Regions from separate parts of the Homo sapiens genome. Here region 2 is linked to region 1. The links come from fine-mapping of genetic effects on gene expression. Tissue or cell type: prefrontal cortex. Region 1 holds a variant in brackets; the other region holds the start of a gene. All regions are shown on one strand. Distances are from middle to middle.

Evidence for each region. PIP is the estimated chance that this variant, and not a neighbour inherited with it, causes the effect.
Region 2: it holds the start of CCDC13, and the variant in region 1 is the best candidate, but not a certain one, in a credible set for the expression of CCDC13 in prefrontal cortex (ROSMAP, PIP 0.51).

Annotation. Positions count from the first base shown.
Region 1 is chr3:42,793,964-42,798,187 of GRCh38, reverse strand. It overlaps HIGD1A (HIG1 hypoxia inducible domain family member 1A), which reads left to right. Exons shown (of 4, transcript NM_014056.4): 2 at 3,913-4,031. The coding sequence starts at 3,935. Among named protein-coding and RNA genes, the nearest start is that of HIGD1A, 8.4 kb to the left of the region's middle. The variant T/A (reference allele first, on the strand shown) is at 1,741.
Region 2 is chr3:42,770,905-42,775,032 of GRCh38, reverse strand. It overlaps CCDC13 (coiled-coil domain containing 13), which reads left to right and starts at 1,780. Exons shown (of 16, transcript NM_144719.4): 1 at 1,780-1,857. It overlaps CCDC13-AS2 (CCDC13 antisense RNA 2), which reads right to left. Exons shown (of 2, transcript NR_122070.1): 1 at 3,956-4,128; 2 at 1,398-1,828. RefSeq lists an enhancer at 1,600-1,769 and a silencer at 1,900-2,059.

The DNA of each region.
Region 1 (4,224 bases):
CTGGCCGGGCAGAGGGGCTCCTCACTTCCCAGTAGGGGCGGCCGGGCAGAGGCGCCCCTCACCTCCCAGACGGGGCGGCTGGCCGGGCGGAGGGCTGACCCCCCCACCTCCCTCCCGGACGGGGCGGCTGGCCGGGCAGAGGGGCTCCTCACTTCCCAGTAGGGGCGGCCGGGCAGAGGCGCCCCTCACCTCCCGGACCGGGCGGCTGGCCGGGCGGGGGGCTGACCCCCCCACCTCCCTCCCGGATGGCACGGCTGGCCGGGCGGGGGGCTGACCCCCCACCTCCCTCCCGGATGGGGCGGCTGGCCGGGCGGGGGGCTGACCCCCCCTCACCTCCCTCCCGGACGGGGTGGCTGCCGGGCGGAGATGCTCCTCACTTCCCAGATGGGGTGGCTGCTGGGCGGAGAGGCTCCTCACTTCTCAGACGGGGCAGCTGCCGGGCGGAGGGGCTCCTCACTTCTCAGACGGGGTGGTTGCCAGGCAGAGGGTCTCCTCACTTCTCAGACGGGGCGGCCGGGCAGAGACGCTCCTCACCTCCCAGACGGGGTCTCGGCCGGGCAGAGGCGCTCCTCACATCCCAGATGGGGCGGTGGGGCAGAGGCGCTCCCCACATCTCAGACGATGGGCGGCCGGGCAGAGACGCTCCTCACTTCCTAGATGTGATGGCGGCTGGGAAGAGGCGCTCCTCACTTCCTAGATGGGATGGCGGCCGGGCGGAGACGCTCCTCACTTCCCAGACTGGGCGGCCGGGCAGAGGGGCTCCTCACATCCCAGACGATGGGCGGCCAGGCAGAGACACTCCTCACTTCCCAGACGGGGTGGCGGCCGGGCAGAGGCTGCAATCTCGGCACTTTGGGAGGCCAAGGCAGGCGGCTGGGAGGTGGAGGTTGTAGTGAGCCGAGATCACGCCACTGCACTCCAGCCTGGGCACCACTGAGCACTGAGTGAACGAGACTCCGTCTGCAATCCCGGCACCTCGGGAGGCCGAGGTTGGCGGATCACTCGCGGTTAGGGGCTGGAGACCGGCCCGGCCAACACAGCGAAACCCCGTCTCCACCAAAACCAGTCAGGCGTGGCGGCGCGTGCCTGCAATCGCAGGCACTCGGCAGGCTGAGGCAGGAGAATCAGGCAGGGAGGTTGCAGTGAGCCGAGATGGCAGCAGTACAGTCCAGCTTCGGCTCCGCATGAGAGGGAGACCGTGGGGAGAGGGAGACGGAGACGGAGACGGAGACGGAGACGGAGAAGGAGGGAGAGGGAGAGGGAGACGGAGAGGGAGACGGAGAGGGAGAGGGAGAGGGAGAGGGACGGAAGTTATAAGATTCTAACCCTCCCTAAAATGCTCCTAAGATCAGTGCTTGAGATATTTTGCAGACCCTGCACTTGATAGACCAACTGGCACCACCCAGATCAATAAACTGGCTCGTCTGATCTTATGTCCCCTACCTAGGAACTGACTCAGCACAAGAGGACAGCTTCAACTTCCCATTTCATCTCCAACCCAACCAATCAGCACTCTGTTCTCTGGCCTTCCCCCACCCACCAAATTATCCTTAAAAACTGATCCCTGAATGCTCCAAGAGACTGATTTGACTAATAATAAAAATCCTGGTCTCCCACACAGCTGGCTTTGGGTGAATTGCTCTTTCTCTATTGCAATTCCCCTGTCTTGGTAAATCAGCTCTGTCTAGCCAGCGGGCAAGGTGAACCTGTTTGGCGGTTACATGATTTCTCTTTTTTTTT[T/A]AAAAAAAAAAACAACAACTAATTTTTGAACGATTAATTACTTTAGTGTTTATATTGTATTATTCAGATATATAGTGAGTATCTTGAACCTTGAGCTTATTGAACCTTATATATAATAAAGCTCATTACTTAGGAGTTTATTCAGTTAAGAAGTAATGGAGTACAAAAAGAAGGTTTAAGTCCAATCTAAATTTTCTTTTATTTAGCTAAGATTTTCTTCTATGTCAGATGACAGTTGAGTCTTCTCAATGAAGGTGAGGCTTATAGGGATGAATTCACTTTCTAAACTAAGCACACCACCCCCTCCGGAGTTGCATTTTTGTTGAGGACCTTAACTGCCACTGACTCCCCTTGAGTAGCAAGGTGTTGAATGAGAGGTACTTTTATCAAAGGGAGCATAATGCACATGAAAAACCCAGAAGTGAAAGTAAGATTTTATATGGGTGTTAGGATGGGCATAGACTTTTAAGTTTATTGTAATTGACACTAATTAGAGACTTGTATGCTTACACTATGCTTCAGGCCCTTATTTTATCTGTGAGTAAAGTTTATTGCAATTCAAAATAGTTCAGTGAAGAAAGTATACTTTGTTATTGTGGCTAAAATGAAATAGCATTTGTTAATGCCTCATTGTGATAAAAGGGCTATTCACGGAGATGACTGAAAAGGAGGAAAGGAGCCTTTGATCCCTGTGATAATGAAAATGAATCCTTTTTTTTTTTTTCCTATCCCCTTACTCATACACTATCAGGCTAGATCTTGCCTTTGGGATACCATTTAAAGGAATTATAAAAAGAGGGTAGAGTTTTAAAAGGAAGCCTAGGGGATATAAGGTATGTAAATGAAGGCAGATCTGAAGCTTAGAAGATATTAAGAAGACCCTGAGGGTAATTCAGTTTTGTGCTGCAGTGATGTTAAAAGGTGCTAATCATAGGGCCAGGTGTGGTAGCTCATGCCTGTAATCCCAACACTGGGAGGCAGGTGGATCACCTGAGGTCAGGAGTTCGAGACCAGCCTGGTCAAGATGGTGAAACCCCATCTCTACTAAAAATACAAAAAAAATTAGCCAGGCATGGTGGCAGGCACTTCTAATCCCAGGTATTTGGGAGGCTGAGGCAGGAGAATCACTTGAACCTGGGAGGCAGAGGTTGCAGTGAACCAAGACTACGCCATTGCACTCCAGCCTGGGCAACAAGAACGAAACTCCATCTCAAAAAAAAAAAAAAAAGCTAATCATAAGCTGGCACAGTGGCTCACACCTGTAATCCCAGCAGTTTGGGAGGCTGAGGTGGGTGGATCACGTGAGGTCAGGAGTGAAACCCTGTCTCTACTAAAGAATACAAAAAAATTAGGCACGGTGGTGTGTGCCAAATGGAGGTTGCAGTGAGCCGAGATCGTGCCACTGCACTCCACCCTGGGCAACAGAGCAAGACTCAGTCTCAAAAAAGAAAAAAAACTAATCATAGGTCATTAAAAAAATCTAAAAGGCTATGAAGGAGACATTTCTACCAATATTTAAAATAAAAGCTTTGTTCTTAAAATGAGTAAATAATGAGCTAGGTAGAAACTTTGGCTATTCAGAATAATCTTTTCCCCAGAGGCAACCACCATGGATAACAGATTACTGTAATAGACTGGAAACTAATCTGAAGTGAAAATTGAAGCAAGGAAGCACATTGGAATAAATAAATCAGCAGTTGAAAGCAATAAAGACTGCATTTAACTACACCGAAAAGTGCTAAGTAGGATTTCCAACATGATATTGAAGGTTCAATAGGAGTTGTCAGTTTGGTTTGAGTAACTTAAAATTGTCAAGTTAAATAGTTGATTAAGGATGAAGATAGCCAGAAAATTAGTAGCTACTATTTTAATTGATAAAAGTAACATCAATTTAAAATTTTTCACTATTTTTAATTAACATGGTGCTAAAAATGAATGGGTTGTACAGGGGAAACGGCAAAATAATAGGGGGAATAAGTGTATACAACTCTCCCTTGAGAGTGACTGTACATTAAAAATACAGTTAATTTCTAAAAATATTTTTTAACTTTAGGATTATGGATAACATATACTAAGATTCTCATGGAAGTTAGGAATATTTTAAATACATCCAGATATTTAATAATGTTCAGATGCTTTTAATTACAGAACCTCATAGAAATTCTTTCTCAGGGAGATTCTTCAAGCAATCACTATGTCAACAGACACAGGTGTTTCCCTTCCTTCATATGAGGAAGATCAGGGATCAAAACTCATTCGAAAAGCTAAAGAGGCACCATTCGTACCCGTTGGTAAGTTTGACTGACATTTTAGTAGTCTTGAATATGGTAGAGCCGTGATAATTTGTTCATTTAGCAATATCCTGAAAGAATGTATTTTCCATTTTTTTCTTATGTTGAAATATGCTGAGATTGGCATGATATAAATCTCATCATAAAGATTCTTCTGTATGTATTCAGACTTTTTTTTTCTTTTTGGAGACAG
Region 2 (4,128 bases), 23 kb after region 1:
GTATACTGTACATGAGGAAATACTGGTGACCCAGATTGGATTCGCCAGCTTCTTGGATGATAAAATGTCAAGCTTATAAACTAAAGAAAATTCTCAAAAGAATTTTGGGCAGAAAAAAAAAATGGCATGAGAGCCTTAGTGGTGACCGTGGAAAAGTAACAAACCTAGAGGAAAATCATCCCTGCTTTTTAAAAAATGGGTTACTGCAAAAATGATATCCTCGTCAAAAATAATCCTTGGATTGCTGGAGCAAATGTTACCCCTTTCCCAAACTTTCTAATACATACATTCTAGAATGTCGGTTCTGAAATTCTCTTGCATCCTTAATTTTCTCACAGCATGTTCTTATTTTAATGAAAACCTGGCTTTCTGCTAGGATCCATGCTTTCCAGAAGCCCTCTAAGTAGACCTGGCTATTCCTTTTCCTATGCCACATAGTCCCATCGTGGTCATGAGGCAAACGAATGATACTCCCCACTACACACACCATTTAAAAAAAACCCTAATCCTTTGAGGCTCACATCTACCTGAATCCTACTCTTTATCCTGTCTCTCTTTGCTGCCACCTGTATATTATACGTCTCCCACCCTCAGCTCACCAGGCAGCAATTGGAGACCAACGGGAAAGATCCATTTTTCCTTTATCAGGAAACTTCGGGTTTATACCTGCAGTGCTGATGGCAGTCTAGTGCCGTATCTTATGTATGCATGTCTATGGGATGGGTATTCATTCACCTTATGAGGAAAAAAAATAGAAAAACAACTGCCAAGGTTTTCAAATTATGAAGTCCTGGATAAATATTTGGGCAGGAGCTGTGGCTCACGCCTGTAATCCCGGCACTTTAGGAGGCCAAGGTGGGCGGATCACCTGAGGTCAGGAGTTCAAGACCAGCCTGGTCAACATGGTGAAACCCCGTCTCCACTAAAAATAAAAAAATTAGCCAGGTGTGGTGGCGGGTGCCTGTAATCCCAGCTACTCAGGAGGCTGAGGCAGGAGAATCGCTTGAACCTGGGAAATGGAGGTTGCAATGAGCTGAGATCGCACCACTGCACTCCAGCCTGGGCGACACAGCGAGACTCTATCATAGATAGATAGATAGATTAGATAGATAGATAGATAGAAAGAAATCTCCCTTGAATCATCTTTCCTAGAAATTTGCCTCCCACCCCCATATTGCCCTGAAATATAGTAGTGTCTTACATTGGAAGGTGCCATTTAAAAAAAAAAAAACAAGTATTTTCCTTTATGAAAATAAACGATGTTCATTATTTTAAAAATTCTCTAAAGTGTAAAAATAAAAACACAGCACTGCTATTCCACCACCCAAATATAACCACTTTTAATATTTCTATTTCGGTCTTGTTTTAGTGCCTAGTTTGAAATAAACACAACTTTATTTATTTAGCATTGCTATATTGCGTCCTGCTTCCTTCACTCACCATCATAACATGGCCTTTCCCCACACTGTTTTACATTTTTCAAATATATCTGAATGGCTACTTTAAATTTCATGGTGAGATCGTTCGCTTTTTAACTCCCCAACAGGAGAGCGGAATGGGCATCTCTGTGCAGAACGTTTGGTCCACAAAACTTTTTTAAAAATATACTCCAGAAGATTTAAAATCTCCAGCGCACTCGAGATCGTGCTCGCTTGGATCCAGCCCAGCGCGCCATCAGCGCCTCTGTCACTTTCAGAACTCTTGGCGCCCCCTCGGCCCCCGTAGAGTAGCGTTGAAAACGCGCAAGTGACGTCGCTTGTTTCCCTGGTGACGGTTGCCAGGGCAGCGCGTGTCGGCGTCCGGAGGAGGTGACCTAGCCGCCGCGGTCCTAGAAGGGAGAAGTGGAGAGAGACCGCTGTAAGTGCCGGGGAGAGCGGAAGGGCCCGGGCCGGAGCTGGGAAAGCCCGCAGCTGCCGGGGGCGCGGAACCGAGCCCGAGCGCAACCCCAGCCCGAGCGCGCTGCCACTGGCCGGGCGCTCACCGCGTGCTGGGCGCCCAGCGAGGACTCTTCCCCTTCGTCCTTTGAATCTTCACACACAGCCCTCTTCTAACCCAGGCAGACGCTTATTTTCCATGCAGTACATGGGTTAATGAGGCGCAGAGGGTGGGTCGCCTGCCCCAAAGTCATAGCGTAGATGGCACAGTCAGAACTCGAACTCAGGTCCGCCTGACAAGCGCTGTTTGCTGGGCCTCTGCCACTGGGCCCTCTCGCACCGCACTGAAAGATGCGACCCGACGGCGTGCACTTCCGCATCTCCCAGTTCCCCTTCCAGGCCCAGCCCCCACAGGACTGGGGACTCGCAAGAGGGAGTTCCCCTCCAAGCCCGGAGTCCAGCCCTGAGAACCAGAGCATCACCCCGCTCCCATCCCAAACCCATCCCTACGAAGATGCTAGCAGTGCACAGAGCGCCAAACTAGGCATCCGTGGGCGGCCTCCCCACACCTCCAGGCCCCTAGACTGTTGTTGAGAATACTCGAAAAGAACACAGTAAAAGAAAAGAAGAAAGAGAAGGAGAGGGGAAGAGAAAAACAATGAAAAAAGTGGCAGGCCGATGGGGCAAGGGGTCTCAATCCTTCCTCACTGGTCCCTGTCACCTATGGTCCCATATCCTGTGGGATCTTGCTTCCTCATAGGACTCCAGAGTGCATGCCACTCTTCCTACTCCCTGGCTCTAAGTCCTACCTGAGCCAAGAGTTCTTTCCATGCAGCTCTAGCCTTTACTTTATTTTTTTTATTATTACTTTTTTTTTTTTTTTTTTTTTTTGACGGAGTCTCGCTCTATCGCCCAGGCTGGAGTGCAGTAGCGCGATCTTGGCTCATTGCAACCTCTGCCTCCCAGGTTCAAGCGATTCTCCTGCCTTGGGCTCGAGTAGCTGGGATTACAGGCGCCCGCCACCATGCCTGGCTAATTTTGGTATTTTTAGTAGAGATGGGGTTTCACCATGTTGGCCAGGCTGGTCTCAAACTCCTGACCTCAGGTGATCCACCCACCTCAGCCTCCCAAAGTTTTGGGATTACACGCATGAGCCACCACGCCCGGCTTAGCCTTTACTTTTAAAAGAAAATAGACTTAAAGCAGATTTTTAGAAGCATTAAACAAAAAACAGTTCCTTTATGTATTCCGTATTCCCATTTCCTCTGTTGTTAACATCTTACACATTGCATTGGTGTGGTACATTTGTTATCATTGATACAACTATACTGGTATGTTATTACTAACTAAAGTCCATAGTTTACATTAGAGTTCATCTGTTGTTGTTGTTGCTGCTGCTGTATTGAGACAGGGTCTCACTTTGTCACCCAGGCTGGAGTGCGGTGGCATGATCATGGCTCACAGTAGCCTCCAACCCCTGGGCTCAAGCAATCCTCCCACCTCAGCCTCCTGAGTAACTGGGAACACAGGCACATGCCACCATGCCCAGCTAATTTTTTTATTTTTTGTAAAGCTATGGTCTTGCTATGTTGCCCAAGCTGGTCTCAAACTCCTGGCCTCAAGTGGTCCTCCCACCTTGGCTTCGTAGAGTGTTGAGATTACAGGTGTGAGTCATCACACCTGGCCAGTGTTCATTGCTTAAGGTTGCACAGGTCTACAAGTTTTGCTAAATGTGTAATGCTGTGTATCCACCAGTAAAGTATACAGAACAGTTTCACCTCCCCAAAAACCCCCTAGGCTTTACTGTTCATTGTTCCTTCCCACCAACCCCTGGAAACCACTGATATTTTTCATTTAGAAGGGATTTACAATCACTGGTATCTTTTACTTCTCTGTAATTTTGCCTTTTTCAGAATATTATACAGTTTGCAATTATACAGCATGTAGCCTTTTCAGACCGGCTTCTTCACTTAACAATACACATTTAGGTTTCTTTCATGTCTTTTCGTGGCGTGATAGCTCATTTCTTTTCATCACTGAATAATATTCACCGGTATGAGTGTACCAGGTTATCTACTCACCTATTGAAGTACATCTTGTTTTTTTCTCATTTTTGGTAATTATGAATAAAGTTATTGAGTCCAGAATTGTGGGTTCTTGGTCTCACTGACTTCAAGAACAAAGCCGCAGACCCTCGCGGTGAGTGTTATTACAGTTCTTAAAGGTGGCGTGTCTGGAGTTTGTTTCTTCCTTC